Linked DNA regions of Homo sapiens. The protein of the gene in region 2 purifies or fractionates together with the protein of the main gene of each other region. This does not show direct contact. Each region holds a gene or a part of one and is shown on either strand. Other genes may lie near its edges.

Region 1 (8,306 bases), on a different chromosome or scaffold from region 2:
AGATCGCGCCACTGCGCTTTCCAGCCTGGGTGACAGGGCGAGACTCCATCTCAAAAATAAAATAAAATAAATAAAAAGGCTTAGGCCTGTAATCCGAACACCCAAGCGGGGGCAGATCTCTTGAACCCAGAAGTTTGATACCAACCTGTCTCCACAAAAAATAAAATAAAATAAAATAAAATTAGCTGGGCATAGTGGTGCATGGGGCGTGTAGTCCCAGCTACTTGGGAGGCTGAGGTGGGACCACTGCTTGAGCCCTGGAGGTCGAGGCTGCAGTGAGCCATGATTGCACCACTACACTCTAGCCTGGGCAGTAGAGCAAAACCTTGTCTCAAAAAAAAAGTAATAAAATAAAGTATGTGTCATTTTGATTTGTGATAACCTTAGGAAAAAGCCAGCAAAGTCTGGGAACCAGGTAATCGATTGCAAATTGGAGAATGATTTACCTGCTATCTAAGATAAAGGAAAAGGGTAAATCACAATGTTGCTTTAAATTCCTTTCAGCTTTGTTTATTGTTTCCTTTTGTGTGGAATTTCACTGTTGCATTGATTTAAACCCAGCTCCTATCAAATGGGACATAGAGTAGGCCCTCAAGTAAACATTTAGCACTAGGCATGTGTGCTCTGTATAGGATATGTAGAACCCTCTCTCTGCTTCTAAGTCATAAATAGTTCTTTAGAGTCTAAGAAATTGGCAAACTCAGGCTGGGCGCAGTGGCTCAGGCCTGTAATACCAGCATTTTGGGAGGCTGAGGCAGGCAGATCACTTGAGGTCCGGAGTTCAAGACCAGCCTGGCCAACATGGTGAAACCCCATCTCTACTAAAAAAAAAAAAAAAAATTACCCGGGTGTGGTGTCAGATGCCTGTAATCCCGGCTACTCAGGAGGCTGAGGCAGGAGAATTGCTTGAACCTGGGAGGTGGAGGTTGCAGTGAGCTGAGATCTCGTCACTGCACTCCAACCTGGGAGAGCTGTGTCCATTCATTTACATATTATCTATGGCTGCTTTCCCTAGAAGGGCAGAGCTAAATAGAAGTTAGAGACTGTATTTTAGGCAAAGGCTAAAATATTTACTATCTGGCCGTTTAGATAAAAAGTTGACTCTATCCCTTGCATCAGGAGCGATAAATAGATGCTCTTGCATTTAGCGTCTTTATTGTTTTTCATGACAAACCTAGAGTTGAACCAACATCTGGCTAAAAAGCAAATGCACCATGACAAATGTTCATGGATCAGCAAAGTGCTAACCCAGTTATGGAAGTCTAATATAGTGTTACAGAGTCACAGGCTTAGCTAATATGTAAATCAGCAAACATGAGCAATAATGATTTATATTTGCATGGCATTCTATAGATTATGAAACATTTCATATCAATCTCATTTGATTTTTCCAATAACCGTAGAAAGTAGACAAGTAGGCTGGGCATTGTGCCTCATACCTATAATCCCAGCATTTTGGGAGGATCACTTGAAGCCAGGAGTTCAAGACCAGCCTGGTCAGTATGACAACACCCTGTTTCTACAAAAAAAATTTTTTTTTTTTAATTAGCCAGGTTTGTTGGCGTATGCCTGTGGTCTTATTTACTTGGGAGGGTTGAGGTGGGAGGATCACTTGAACCTAGGAGTTTGAGGTAACAGTGAGTTATGATTGCACTACTGCACTCAAGTCAGGGTTACAGAGCAAGACTCTGTCCCCCTGTCTCCCTGTCCCCGACCCCCACCCCCCCCAAAAAAAGGGCCGGCGTAGTGGCTCATGCCTGTAATCCCAGCAATTTGGAAAGCCGACGCAGGTGGATTACCTGAGGTTGGGAGTTTGACACCAGCCTGACCAACATAGAGAAACCCTGTTTCTATTAAAAATACAAAAATTAGCCAGGCGTGGTGTTGGGTGCCTGTAATCCCAGCTACTCGGGAGACTGAGGCAGAAGAATTACTTGAACTCAGGAAGCGGAGGTTGCAGTGAGCCGAGATCGTGCCATTGCACTCCAGTCTGGGCAACAAGAGTGAAACTCAAAAAAAAAAAAAAAAGAAAGAAAGAAAGTAGACAAATTATGAAACAGATTCAGCGACATTGCGTGATAACTCAGAGTGAAAAGGAACTCAGATTTAATGTCTTCAGTCTTTTAGCAGCTAAATGATTATTTTATCTCTGGAAAATGGTTACCTTGCTAAAAATAAAAAAGGTGAGCGGTTATTAACGTTTATCATTCTATGATGCACTGACTTGGAAGATCACTTACAATTAACTGTACTTTGTAATAACATGTTCTGTCTTCTAAATATTGTATTTTTATGTCAGTATGATGGTAAAAATAATATAAGCATTTTATATAATGGTTTTAAAAATCAAAATAAATATGGGCCTAATTAAGTTATAAGTTAAAAATATAATCTTAAATTTTTGAAATCTTAGAAACTGCAAGATGAATCAGTTATCTGGTTTTCTTGGATTAACAAAATTTTTAAAAAACAACTCTTGGAGTAGCAGGGAAAATAAGTCTTAGTAAAAATGTGAGTATATATGAGCTTGAGAAAAATAATGAAAAGTATACATAGTGCTCTGTAAATGGATCAAATCGTGTTGAACTAAATATTTCAATGGAAGCTACGAACATGTAGATGACTATTACAATCGTTGTATCATCTAAGACTTGATCTCCTGTGTGATCAAACCACTTCTGAGGAATTGCCAGTTTACCAACACATTGCTGTATCAGTCTTGGACCCACGTAAAACATTAATACAACATACTGCATGATTCAGCTAGATGACATTCTGGAAAAGGCAAATCTATGGAGACAGTAAAAAGATCAGTGGTTGCTAGGGGTCAGGGTAAGGAGGGGATGAATAGTGGAGGGCAGAGGATTTTTAGGGCAGTGAAACTTAACTGTATGATACTGTAATGGTGGATGCATGTTATTATACATTAGTCCAAACCCATAGAATGTATAACACCAAGAGTGAACTCTAACATAAAACTCTGCTAGGGAATGTTGATGGCAAAGTAGGTTATACGTGCATGGGGACAAGCGTATATGGGTAATCTCTGTACCTTCTGCTCAATGTTGCTGTGAACTTAAAGCTGCTCTAAAATATAAAGCCTACTTTAAAAAAATAACATAATGAGCTAACAAAGACCACAATTCTAGGTCTTCCTCAGAAGCTTTATAAATATGCATTAAAAAATTATTTTTTGGGTATACTCTGGCAGAAATACAAGAAAAACAAAGGCCCAGAATTTTTCCAGGAGAATAGATCCAGAGCGAACATGAACTTACTTCACACCCAGATTGAGTTTCCCATGAACATGACTCGTTCTCCTGAGGGAGAACCCCTCTTTGGAAAGCATGTTCACCCAGGCATGTTTGACACAAGGAAGACTCGAAGTCTGGCTCCCCTGGAGGGATGTGCACCATGGAGGAGCCGGTGTACTTCAGGCTGGGACTCTGATGCTTGTCCACACTGACCATTGGGCTCTTGATCCACCTTCGTACCTGCAATGTGCAAAAGGAAAGAAAAAACAAATGTGTTTGACTCCCTTTGATGTTTATTGGGGATTTGGTGGGAAATCTGGTGGGATGGGAGCTCATGAAAGGAGAACTCGGTCTCACAACCTGTCTATCTTTCAAACTCAACACAATTCGAATTGGTCAATGCTGTTCAGTCTCTTTCCTAGAGTATGCATTACATGGCTGGTCATTTCATCTTGCTGAGTCTGTCTCCGCATTTTTTTTTCACATTATTTTTTTCTTTTCTTTTTCCTCCTGCTTCCAGTGGGGTTAGAATTTTTTTCTTTTTAGAGATAGGGGGGTTTCACTCTGTTGCCCAGGCTGGTCTTGGTGTTAAAAGATCCTCCTGGACCAGCCTGCCAACATGATGAAACCCCATCTCTACTAAAAATACCAAAATTAGCCAGGCCTGGTGGTACACGCCTATAATCTCAGCTGCTTGGGAGAATCGCTTGAACCTGGGAAGCGGAGGTTGCAGTGAGCTGAGATAGCCCCGCTGCACTCCAGCCTGGGTGACAGAGCAAGACTGTCTCCAACCACAACAACAACACAACAACAACAAACCCTCAAAACCCAAAAACAAACAAAAACAATTACCCTGGCCAGGCGAGATGGTTTATATCTAAATAGCACTTTGGGAGGCCAAGGCAGGAGGACTGCTTTAGCCCAGGAGTTTGAGACCAGCCTGGGCAAAATAGCGAAACTTTGTCTCTACGAAAAAAATAACTTTTTTTTTTTTTTAAAGAAAAAGATCCTTTTGCCTCTTAAAGTGTTGGGATCACAGGTATAAGTCACTGTGCCCAGCCTGTCTCCTCATTTGTAAGATTCAGGTAATAATATTTCCTCCCAAGCTGTGAAAATGCTACCATGTTTTACAATGTTCAAGTACTTTGCCTGGCACATGTTTGGTGCCCAATAGATAGTGACTATTTTACTTTGACCCTTATTATTATGATTATGATGACAGAAATTTAGTTCACACATTTCTAAGGTGAATTACTAGTTATTCTTACAAGGGAAAATACTAATCTCATAGTTTACAATCTAATCCATTGCTAAGCAAATACATATTCACTATTATTATTGTTATTGAGACAGGATCTTCCTCTGTCACCCAGGATGGAATGCAGTGGCCTAATCATGGCTCACTGCAGTCTTGAACTGCTGGGCTCAAGCAATCCTCTCACCTCAGCCTCTGGAGTAGCTGAGACCACAGGCTCGCACCATCACACTACTAATTTTTTTTTTTTTTTGTAGAGATGAGGTCTCACTAAGTTGCGCAGGCTGGTATCAAACTCCTGGGCTCAAGTGATCCTCCCGCCTCCCAAAGTGTTGGGATTACAGGCATGAGCCACTGAATCCGGCCCATATATACTACTGCACAACTTTGATTATAAAAGAAATTGCTTCTGGCTAAGAAATTAGCTCAAGTTTGTTTTTAAAGTTCTAAAACTCACCACTTGTCTTGCTTGCTTGTAAAATCCCTATAAGATACAGAAAGAAGTATAAAGCTATTCTAATATTAACAGGCATGGTATTTATACAGCATTTCAAAAATCAAGGCACTTTTTAAAGTGTTTGATGTGTATAGTTTTTAATCCTCAGAACAGGCAGGGTGAGGTGGCTCACACCTGTAATCCCAGCACTTTAAACTTTGGGAGGCTAAGGCAGGCAGGTCACTTGAGGCCAGGATTTTGGGACCAGCCTAGCCAACATAGCAAAACCCCATCTCTACAAAAGAAAATAAATAAGTAAATGAAGAATAAAAAATTAATTAATTAGTCCTCAGAAAAGTTTTATAAGAAAGGTACTATTTTCAATCCCATTATACAGATGGAAAAACAAACGCATAGAGATGTGAAGCAAATTTCCCCAGGGCACAGTGTTGTTATGGAGTAAAGGCGGGATCCAGGCACCTTGAATCCAGAGTTTATAAACATGCAATTTTCTTTTCTTTCTTTTTTTTTTTTTTTGAGACAGAGTCTCGCTCTGTTGCCCCTGGCTGGAGTACAGTGGCGCGATCTCAGCTCACTGCAAGCTCTGCCTCCTGGGTTCACGCCATTCTCCTGCCTCAGCCTCCCGAGTAGCTGGGACTACAGGCACCTGCCACCATGCCTGGCTAATTTTTTGTATTTTTAGTAGAGACCGGGTTTCATCGTGTTAGCCAGGATGGTCTCGATCTCCTGACCTCATGATCCGCCCACCTTGGCCTCCCATAGTGCTGGTATTACAGGCTTGAGCCACTGCGCCTGGCCATGAGCATGCAATTTTCTAAGAAGCACTGAAGTGTTGTTAAGACTTATGGTCACTGGTGCTTGAAATTTATTTTGATTTACTATTTCACTTTCATGCTCTTCAAAACTCCTGAGGATTCTTTTATATTCAACCAATTAGTGAAATTAGCCTATAGCAAAAGGACAAAGAAGTAAAATCACAGTACTGAATTTTAGTTAGTGATGCTACAATTATTATTATTATTATTTTTGTTGTTGTTGTTGTTAAAGGGTCTTGTTTTGTTCCCCAGATTGGAGTGCATTGGCACGATGACAGCTCACTGCAGCCTTAACCTCCTAGGCTCAAGCGATCCTCCCACCTCAGCCCTCCCAAGTAGCTGGGACTACAGGCGTGCACCACCATGACTGGCTAATTATTTTTAAATTGTTTTGTAGAGACAGGGTCTTGCTATATTGCCCAGACTGGTCTTAAACTCCTGGCCTTAGGCGATCCTCCCACTTTGGCTTCCCAAAGTGTTGGGATTACAAGTGTGAGCCACCATGCCCAGCCTGCAATTAACTTTTTAAAAAACACTGAGGATAAACTAAAATTGCAATAGCAATAATGTTTAAGCAATTTATTATATTACTTGATAGAATATTTTGCTATCACTAAAATTAAGTATTATGAAGACTGTGAAAATATGAAAAATATTTAGAACATAATTATATGAGAAAAGCCAAATACAAAACTGTTTAATTGCTATAATCACAAATGTAAAAACATATGTACTAACTATAGGCCGGGTGCAGTGGCTCACGCCTGTAATCCCAGCACTTTGGGAGGTCGAGGCAGGCAGATCACCTGAGCCCAGGAGTTCAAGACCAGCCTGGTCAACATGACAAAACCCCATCTCTACAAAAAACACAAAAATTAGCTGGGTGTAGTGTTGGGCACCTGTAATCCCAGCTACTCAGGAGGCTGAGGCAGGAGAATCGCTTGACCCCTGGAGGTGGAGGTTGTGGTGAACCAAGATCATGCCATTGCACTCCAGCCTGGGCAACAAGAGTGAAAACTCTGTCTCAAAAAACAAACAAACAAACAAACAAAAAAAATATATATATACACATATATATTTTATATATACATATATATTTTATATACACATATATATTTTATATATATACATATATATTTATACATATACATATATACATATACATATATATTTTATATATATACATATATATATATACATATATATATACACAGAAACACTATAGACATAAAGTAGGAGAGTTAAGAGGCAAAATAGAAACTGCTGTGTTTATTGTTAGTATCATGGGTGTTTTATCTGTTTTTACAACTCTTCGTACTTTAACTTTTAAAAGAATAATATTTTATCAGAATCATAAATGTATATATATATATACATTTCTTTAAAAAATAGAGTCTCACCATGTTGGTCAAGCCAAGCTGGTTAGAACTCCTGGGCTCAAGTGTTCCCCTCCCAGCTCAGCCTCCCAAAATGCTGGGATTACAGGCGTGAGCTACCACATCCAGCCACAAGTGTCTTTTAATTGCTTTATTTATTTATTTCTTTATTCATTTATTTATATTTATTAAGATGGAGTCTCTGATTGTCACCCAGGCTGGAGTGCAGTGGCGCGATCTCAGCTCACTGCAGCCTCCTCCTCCCTGGTTCAAGTGATTCTCCTCCCTCAGCCTCCTGAGTGGCTGGAATTACAGGCACCGTGCCCCCACGCCCAGCTAATTTTTGTATTTTTAGTAGAGACGGGGTTTTGCTATGTTGGCCAGGCCGGTCTTGAACTCCTGATCTCGGGTGATCCACCCACCTCAGCCTCCCAAAGGGCTGGTAATACAGGCGTGAGCAACTGCACCTGGCCTATATGTACTCTTTTCAATAGCCATTTAAAATATCTTTGTGAGGCCGGTTGTGGTGGCTCACACCTGTAATCCCAGCACTTTGGGTTTGGGAGGCTGAGGCGTGTGGATCACCTGATCTCAGGAGTTCAAGACCAGCCTGACCAACATGGTGAAACCCTGACTCTCCTAAAAATACAAAAATTAGCTGGGCGTGGTGGTGCACACCCGTAACCCCAGCTGCTCCAGAGGCTGAAGCAGAAGAACGGCTTGAACCTCGGAGGCAGAGGTTGCAGTGAGCCTGAGATCATGGCACTGCATTCCAGCCTGGGTGAAAGAAGGAGACTCTGTCTCAAAAAAAATAAAATATCTTTTTGAGTTTACTATCCTAAAGTTAAAATTTTGGGTTTCCTTAAATATTTCTGTCACTATAGGGCCCCTTAAGCATGTTAGTAGGTATATTAAGAATGTTTCGCTGATTCATTAATGGAAGTCTAAATGAAACTTTAAAAGTTTGAGACTCCAATAGAATGTATCTTCTTAATGTTAGTACTAAATGTGTTTTTGATCAGTCTAAAAAGTGTTCAATTTCATTAGAGATGGATAATGTTTTTTATTATTCTTATTCAGATAGTTTTGGGCTTGAAGTCTGGTAACTGTTCTTGCTTTGTCTCCAACGTTGTAGTTTAAAATCAATCT
Region 2 (8,306 bases):
AATTCAGATGTGGAAAGATAGATAGATTAACTTTCCACAAAATGTAGTACCCCAAGCTGAGAAATGCATGGTACATGTGCAACAAGAGGAAAGCAATCCAAACAGTTTTTCTGAGAGCAATTTTCTCCATCTGTGACTTTTCACTATCAGGTTCCCCAACTTGAAAACTAGCCCCCCACCCCCTTCTCTTTATGTTCAGTTTCTTCTAGGTCACGTCTGTTCAAGCCTAGCTCAAATAAGAAAGGTTTATATGACAGTCACTGGCCAGGCATCACGTTTGTTTCCTCATTCTTTAGTCTTTGTCTTTCACCCAGCACACACCATTCTTTTAAGTTGTCCAATTTTGTTACAACACCCCCTCCTCACTATTCCCGAAACAGAACTTTCTGTTTTTAACCACTGATGCCAACCTAACTTCCCACCCTACTCATCTTACACCTGCTCTAGACAAAGTTGTTGAATGACTTAAAAAAATACTTTTTCAATTTCCCTTTGGCATAACCACTGCTGGACTGCTGGGGTCACATGGACCTACGATTTCCTTCCACATGCCCTTTATTGATCTGGGGTCTGGTAAGTTGATGCTAATGGCAGAAGCAATAGAAGTCCAAGGCACTAAAATGTCCAGCAAGCAACACTGGGAAACAGAAGTATTCAAGTACAGTAATTTATACAATTTTACATTCACATTTATTTATCTAATACAATGGAAATACAAAGGAAAAAGTTAAAGTGTCTCAATAAGTAAAGGACAGAGCTAGCTTTTTTTGGAACTTTTTAAACGTTTCATATTTTACTCTTAAAACTACTGTTGTCCAACAACATTTTATATATCACAGTGTTTCCACATCAAAACTGATGGCAAAGTTACATGTCCGCAGGGAACTTAATTTTTTTTTTTTCCTAATTGCTAATGCTGCAGTCAAAGCTGCTAATATCTTTTGCTTAAAGCACTAATGACCTATCATAAGAAAGAGTTGCACCCCAGTACCCTGGTATTTTTCACTGGGTTCTAAAGAGCAAAGAAAAAATAAAAAAGAGAGGGGTAAAAAAAAGGGAGGAGGGCAGGGTAGGAGAGAGCCCAGTAGGTGGTTTTTGTCCTGTGGTTCGGATTCTTGAGGGAGTGAGGGATTCAGGGCATGTACCAAAAGCAAGAGCTCCACCCACTCGAAATTACAGATGGGTTTGATTTTACATTGAGTTCTCCAGCTTCCTTATGAACAAGACTTTCCTAGCCCTCATCCTCATTACTGAGTATAGATAAACAGGAAAGCATGGTCTGAAGCTGCCCCTTGACAAAAAAGCTGTTCTTTCCTTCCTCTCCCATTCCAATAACTGGAGCGGGGGAGACTCTCCATTCTGAGGGCTCAATGCAGTATTAAAAACATTCCCCTCTGGCAAGAAATAACCAGTTAAATGCAGCACTAGTAGTTAGTATATAGGCTACTTCCCACCCCCACCCACCCCCTCAGCATTCCATCTCCTGCCCCCAGATCTATTCAGTTAATGTCTCTAGGTCTAAGTGGTCCGCAGGTTGGAGCCTGGGGGGTTGCTGATGGATTTCTGCAAATTGCTGATGTTGAAATTCTGCAAGGAGGCAGTTCCCACAGGTTGGAACTGGCCAAGTGGCTGTGGTGCTGGGCCACCCGTCCCACTCCATTGAGCGCCAAATGGGGTAGCTGGAAAGCCATACTGCTGTGGGGGGCACATAGACTTGGTGAAGTGACCTAGAGAGGTAGCTGATGCTGCAGAGATGGGGGCAGAGCCACCCAGGTTCGAGGTCATGGAGATGCACAGTTGCCCAGGTGCAGAGAACTTCCTTGCCATTCCAGGGCCCTGAAAACAAAACCACCACGTGTCAAGTCTGGTGTGGGCCATGGTATAAAATGTGTGGCGCTAACATATACTTCTAGTATAATCCTGTAAGATACAGCAGAACAGTCTTCTGTAGTATTTATTGGCTCTTTATATTTACCAAGTAAGGGTGAAAATAATCCTCATGAGAGGGAGGGATGTCATGTGCGTGTGTGTCTGTGTGTGTGTAGTTGAGGATGACGAAGGAAAAACGAAGAAGAAAAAGTTGAGCTGACCAACAAGAGGTTAGGAATTCAGGGAAGGAAAAATAAAAGGGTACCTGGGGGATTTTTGCCTTGTTTTTCTAAAGTATTAAAATTGAAGAAGGTCGTGGCGTAAGACGTTAAGCAGCAGCTTAGTTGTTTCTATCACCTTGACTCAGATGTGTGTTACGGATTCTCTGCGGCAAAAGAGAGACTTACCTCGTAATTCATGTGCCCTTTGCTTCCTCTCCTGCCTGAGAGATTCATGGCATCTCGGGCCCAATTGTCTACCAACTTGTGCAAGTCATCTGTGAATGTGCCCTTCCTGCTGGACGTCATGGCAGGAGGCTGAGCTTGGGCGGCTTGGCTGTTCACTGTTGCCCCAACAGTGTTTGTGCTGCTGGTTCCTATTATAAGCAACAGAATACGAGCATTAAAAGAAGCCTAGGTTACAATTTCAGGAAGAGGGAAAACTTCACGGGATGATGAATGGCAAGCCACAGAATGAGAAGAGGATGAACTGGGAAGCCATGCAAGAGGGAAGATTCCAAGGTTTTGTTTAGCCATTTGTTTTGGTATAATAGGGTGATGAAAACAGTTTCTCTTCAGTAGCTGCTGCTAAGGCTGAACAACTCAGGATGACGGTAGGTACACAGGCAGGGGCCTCTTTCAGTCCATTCACAAAGCACCTAAGAGTATTGGAACTGCTCGCCAGTACGCTATTCCCAGCATCACGTTGCTGATGGAGGTGTGATACAATCAGCAAGGCTAGTTGCTCTGGAATTTTGCAGAATGCAGGGAAAAAGAGGTTTTCTTGTGCATTGGGCACGGTTAAAGTAGGAGTAGGAAAAGATGCTTGGCTAAGGATAAGGAGAAGGTGGGTTTCCAAACCATTGGACACTGCCACATTCTTTAGCCTTTTTTTTTTTTTTTGAGATGGAGTCTCACTCTATTACTCAGGCTGGAGTGCAGTGGTACGATCCTACCTAACTGCAACCCCTGCCTCCTGGGTTCAAGCGATTCTCCTGTCTCAGCCTCCAGAGTAGCTGGGATTGTAGGTGTGCACCACCATGCCCAGTTAATTTTTGTATTTTAGTAGAGACAGGGTTTTGCCGTGTTGGCCAGGCTGGTCTCAAGAACTCCTGACCTCAGGTGATCCGCCCGCCTTGGCCTCCCAAAGTGCTGGGATTACAGACGTGAGCCACCACGCCCGGCTTTTTTTTTTTTTTAAAGGAAGGGTCTCTTCTTTTTCTGTCACCCAGGCTGGATACAGCGGCACAATCACGTCTCACTGCAGCCTCCAACTCCTCCTGCCTCAGCCTCCCAAGTAGCTTGGGACTAGACGTATGCACTTCCACACCCAGTTAATTTTTTACTTTTTTATATAGACAGAATCTCCATATGTTGCTTAGTCATGAACTGCTGGGCTCAGGCAATCCTGCCATGTCAGCCTCCCAAAGTGCTGGGATTACAGGTGTGAGCCACCATGCTCAGCCTAGCCATTCTTTAAATAGAGAGAGGTAATAAGAGAAGTAGCATGCTGTGTTCAGAAAAGTTTTTCACCTGGACCCATAAACATGAATTTGCAAACATAAACTTGGGAGGGGTTAACCTCTCCCAATTTCCCATGAGTAAAGAACAAGATTATTCATGAGGAAAGGACTGTATGGTGTGCCTGAATCTTTCAACTTCAGGAAGACATGGTTTTCCTGAAGATGACCTCAGTTTCAATTGGCTCAAGGATTCCCACCGCTTCTCCCCACTCTTCCCAGAACAGCAAGCACTCCCATGTAGAAGCGACAAGAAAATGCAGCTGAGGCAGGGTGCAAAGGGGAGGAGGAAGCTTTGCGGTTATGATGAAGGAACTCTATTTCTGCGGTTTGATGAGAGAGGAGGGAGTCTATGCCTGCCTGATTTCGGCTCTGCTGGAGGGCACACTGAAGATTATTCCAAGAGGCACGTTTTGGGGAAGAGGGAAAGAAGAGTCATGGTCTTGTCTGTTTTCCTTACCCCCCACTGTCTTACCAGATCTCACGTGTTACAGAATAAATAAAAGCTCCTAAAGTAAGTTGTGAACCACTAGTCCTTAAGGTACCCAAGTAATGCGGGGGTAAGTAAGTGCATGCGTTATCCTGCTTTCAAGGTCAAAGCAGCACCAGATCACAGCAGCACACCTAACGCAATCCTGCCACTTCAAAGCCTGTTACTGACCATCGCTGGTCTCAAGTCAAGCTTATATCCTACCACCTGGGGAATGGCACACACAAGCAGGTCTGTGCTGCAGTAACAGCTAATTCTGAGGTGAAGCTGCAGTGAGGAAGGTCACATGCTTCTTACCGCTATGGCAAGACACGGAACTACTGCAGTGTGAGTGTCAGCTCATTTCTTGGTGTCTGCTGGAGCCACAAGGGGATTGCTATTGCACATACAGTGTGAAGGGAAGAGTAAGCTCCCTACAGTACAGGAAACGCGAGGGGAGAAGCATGAGAGCACAGAAAACAGCCTTCCATGAACAGCCAATGTGAGAGAGTGGTGAAGTGGGAAGCACAGGCAATGAGGATGGGCAGTCATGACAGTGAGTGACTCAATCTAGAAAGCAAGCATATCACATGCATGGGGATTGTCATCCTGTTTGAACAATTATTGCTTGGTGAGCTTGATGTGAGAGACAATCAAAACAAAAAACAGAAATAATCACAGGGGAGCAGAGCTGTCAAAAGCTAAATACAAGAAGCTCAGGAGGCGTGACCATTGCTTATCCACAGAGCTCATGCTGGGAGACACACCTCTCTAGTCTGTCGCCCCTGATGCTGCGAGGCCCCTTTAGAACGAAATTTCACTTTTCATTTTACCCTACATTACCTAATACAGGATTCTCTATGAGGAAAGAGAAACCATGAGGAAGAGTCAACCATACAGCTAAACCTTCACGTTCTGGCTTCTGTATACAGGCCTCCCATTAAAGAATGAAACAAACCTATCATTTTCTGACCAGAAATTAACTCCTAAGAAAAGGAGACTTGACTATAAAAGATGTAGAAAGGCCTTTGAGAGAATATGCTAACTTCTTAACCTTTTTTAGTTCTTCTGAAAAGCCCTAATAAGTAGTATAGACTTACCCCCAAGATTCATTTTTAAATTTCCTCCTGCCATTATAATACATTTCCCCTATTCCCACATCACCAGATCCTACTAACAATAACCTATTATGAACCATAACTTACAGCCCAACATCCCAAGTACAGAATTTCCCTGTTGACCCTACCTACAACACTGTAAGTGGCCTTCTCATTAAAGTATGAGAAGCCACAGTCTAAGAAGACAAACTCTAGAAAGTGGTGTTTTTCTCCTCGTCAATCTAGCACACATCTCCCACTTCAGTGTGAACGTGGGAGGGCATGGACTTTTGTATGCTTTCGTCACTGCTGAGTTTCCAGTTGGGGTAATAACACTGCCCGGCACATATTTGCTGACCAAAGGATCGCTCTCCCATAGGAACTAGGCATCCCTGACCTCCCTATATATACCCATGGCCATTACCAATCCATGTCTGTCACAAGCTAGGCTCACATGGGGTTATCACTGAGGGCACCGACTAGGAGATGATTTCTCAATTAAGCATGTTAAATATTTATTAGAATAGGATACAGAGATAGATGGAAGTTAGGAATCAGGGAGCTATGAGACTGCAGAGTTGAAAGAACTCATGGTTAACAGGCTTTGCAATCAAGGACCAAAAATAACAGAAAAGATAATTACTACAGAGCTGGTTGCAAGGACAGACTTTTTTCACCATCTTCCCTGAAGCACAAAGAGAGAAGCAATGTGTTAAAGATAAAGAAACATCAGTGTAAAATATTTAGAATCTCCAAACAGCACACAAACGCCCAGCAAGAGAAAGCAGGAGGTGAGACAGATAGGTAGGACCTGGTAGCCCTTGAACAGATATAGTTCTACAGAATGTTTCGAACTGGCTGTTAGCCTTAACATGATTATCTGATGGGCTGTGTTACGTGGCTGACAGATGTGGAGTTTCTACACCCAATCTTTGTATCTAAAAGAGTAATGCCCTGCACTGAGGTTCTGGAATTGGCGAGGAACTCCAGTCTCTCAGGTCTCACTGCTTGAATTTCAAATACCCAAGCAGCGTTTCCACTGATCCTGTCCCACTTCCTGTTTCTCCAGCTGGGCTGTTAAAAAGCACTCAGTTAAATGCATTAGCAACCCCACCACAGTAGACTGATAGTATCACTGTTACAGCTTTAAGTTCATTTAAATTGGCTATTATATTTCCACATCCCACATATATATACTAACCCCTTCCCTTCCAGAATAGTTTTTAAAAGTACGTGGAAAACAAGCAACCTCTGAACATAAATATAGCAGTAAGCCAAGCCGTGCTTCCAAACCATTATCTATTTTGAGAGCATAGAATAATACATCTCAAGCTAGTAAGGTGCCCTACTCTTTCAAGTACCTGTTTCCTTTCCATATTTCAAGTATGTCTCTTGGGATTTGTTTACCAGGCTTACATGATGTATCCTGATGTGACTTCTAAGGATGTAGGGCCTTTCATTTTGCACCCAAAGGGAAGTGACAAGATTCAATATTTCTGACCACTTTCATTTGAACAACAGGGGTAATACCACCTACCTTTAAAAGTGGGATGAGAATTTATGGAATTTAATTAAAGTGGTATTTGTCACATTATATTTCAGAAACAGAAGCTTTGGTTCTCTTTCTTCCCTCTCAGACACTTCAGGCTGTAGACCATAGGCCTGACATGTCACATTCTACTTCAAAAACACCCCCCTTGCAACTTTCTAGGTGGACATGCAAATTAAATGCTTATTCAACTGTCAAAGTGCTAATATGCACAGTCCAGGAAAGTCTGACCAGAAAAATTATTGATCTGAGTCCTCAAAAAAAAAATCACACAAGCCTGGAAAACGATCGAATTGGGTAATGCCTTCCACCCGCTTCTTTGTTAAACAGCCTGGGACTAGTGCATGTGGGGAAAGTCAGTAAAGACTGCCTCTCAAGTACAGCTAACTCATTACTAATACAGGTACAAATAATAGGGGTGCTGGAAGGAGCCAATCCATTTCTAATGCAGGTAAAAATAACAGGGGTATGTGTGAGGGAAATGGCAGTTAAACGTGTCATATGCTTCGCTTTAAATCTAGTCACTACAGAGAACAAAGGGAGGTTGTAAATTCTTCCCACCGTGAAGAGGCCCAAGGGCCTCTGACCCATACTCAGAAACAGTGATGGCCTGAGCACATGCATGTAAAAAGCACTTCAATAATCACATCAGAAGTTTGAGGCCTTAACAGAGAAGATCTTTATTCAAATTATAACAAAGGTTTTTCTACTTGAACTATGTTTTTGTTTGTTTTAAACTGTTCTTCCACGAACAGTTATTGACTACCTGTTCTGTGCCAGGTAGGCACTGACTCATCAGAGAGAAACCATGAGTGCTTTTCAAGCGCTACCTGTTTCTCTGTACATGATCTTAGCTTGATTTGTACGATGGCCCTAGGACACTGGCATCATCTCCATTTCACATATGGGGAAGATGGGGTGACTTGCTATTGTGCCTTGTTTTTAAGTAGAAAGCTGCAAAATCCCAGAAATCATGTTAGAAGGAGAATTTTCACTTGCAGATGCTGGGCTTTGATCTTTATTAGACTAAGTGCTTTATCAGAATAACCAAACTAAAAACCGCTTTTGATTTTATGGGGTTAGAGGACAGTAGTGGTGGAATGATCCAATGAAGAGATCCTAGCATCTTTTCAACTGGTAGCTGCTTAGGCTTAATAGAGAAGAAAAATAAGATTTCAATCTACTCTGACAAAGAATGGAAAAAAATGGTACATAATTTTTACCTGCTGCCAGGATCTAAGAGCATCATTGGTCAAAATGCTTTCTTCATTTCGTTTCTTTTTTTTGAGATAGAGTCTCACTCTGTCGCTCAGGCTGGGGTGCAGTGGTGCAATCATGGCTCACTGCAGTCTCAACCTCCTGGTCTTAAGGTGGTAATCCTCCCGCCTCAGCCTCCTGGGCAGCTGGGACTATAGGTGCACACCACCATGCCAGGCTAACTTTTTTTTTTTTTTTAGAGATGGGGTATCACCATGTTGCCCAGGGTTGGTCTCGAGCTCCTGGCCTCAAGCAATCTTCCCGCCTCGGCCTCCCAAAGTGCTGGGATTACAGGTGTACGCCACCGTGTCTGGCTGATTTCTCTCA

Evidence for each region. Proteins that work in one complex are often made in the same cells at the same time.
Region 1: the proteins of WNK1 (region 2) and SGK1 purify together in Homo sapiens (affinity purification with western blotting, with the first as the bait; 2 studies listed by BioGRID). This does not show direct contact.

Annotation. Positions count from the first base shown.
Region 1 is NC_000006.12:134,258,655-134,266,960, forward strand, and holds part of SGK1 (serine/threonine-protein kinase Sgk1), read right to left. Parts: intron 3,495-8,306; coding exon 3,279-3,494; intron 1-3,278. UniProt on the Homo sapiens protein: Serine/threonine-protein kinase which is involved in the regulation of a wide variety of ion channels, membrane transporters, cellular enzymes, transcription factors, neuronal excitability, cell growth, proliferation, survival, migration and apoptosis.
Region 2 is NC_000012.12:902,005-910,310, reverse strand, and holds part of WNK1 (serine/threonine-protein kinase WNK1), read right to left. Parts: intron 2,465-8,306; coding exon 2,277-2,464; intron 1,837-2,276; coding exon 1,519-1,836; 3' UTR 1-1,518. UniProt on the Homo sapiens protein: Serine/threonine-protein kinase component of the WNK1-SPAK/OSR1 kinase cascade, which acts as a key regulator of blood pressure and regulatory volume increase by promoting ion influx.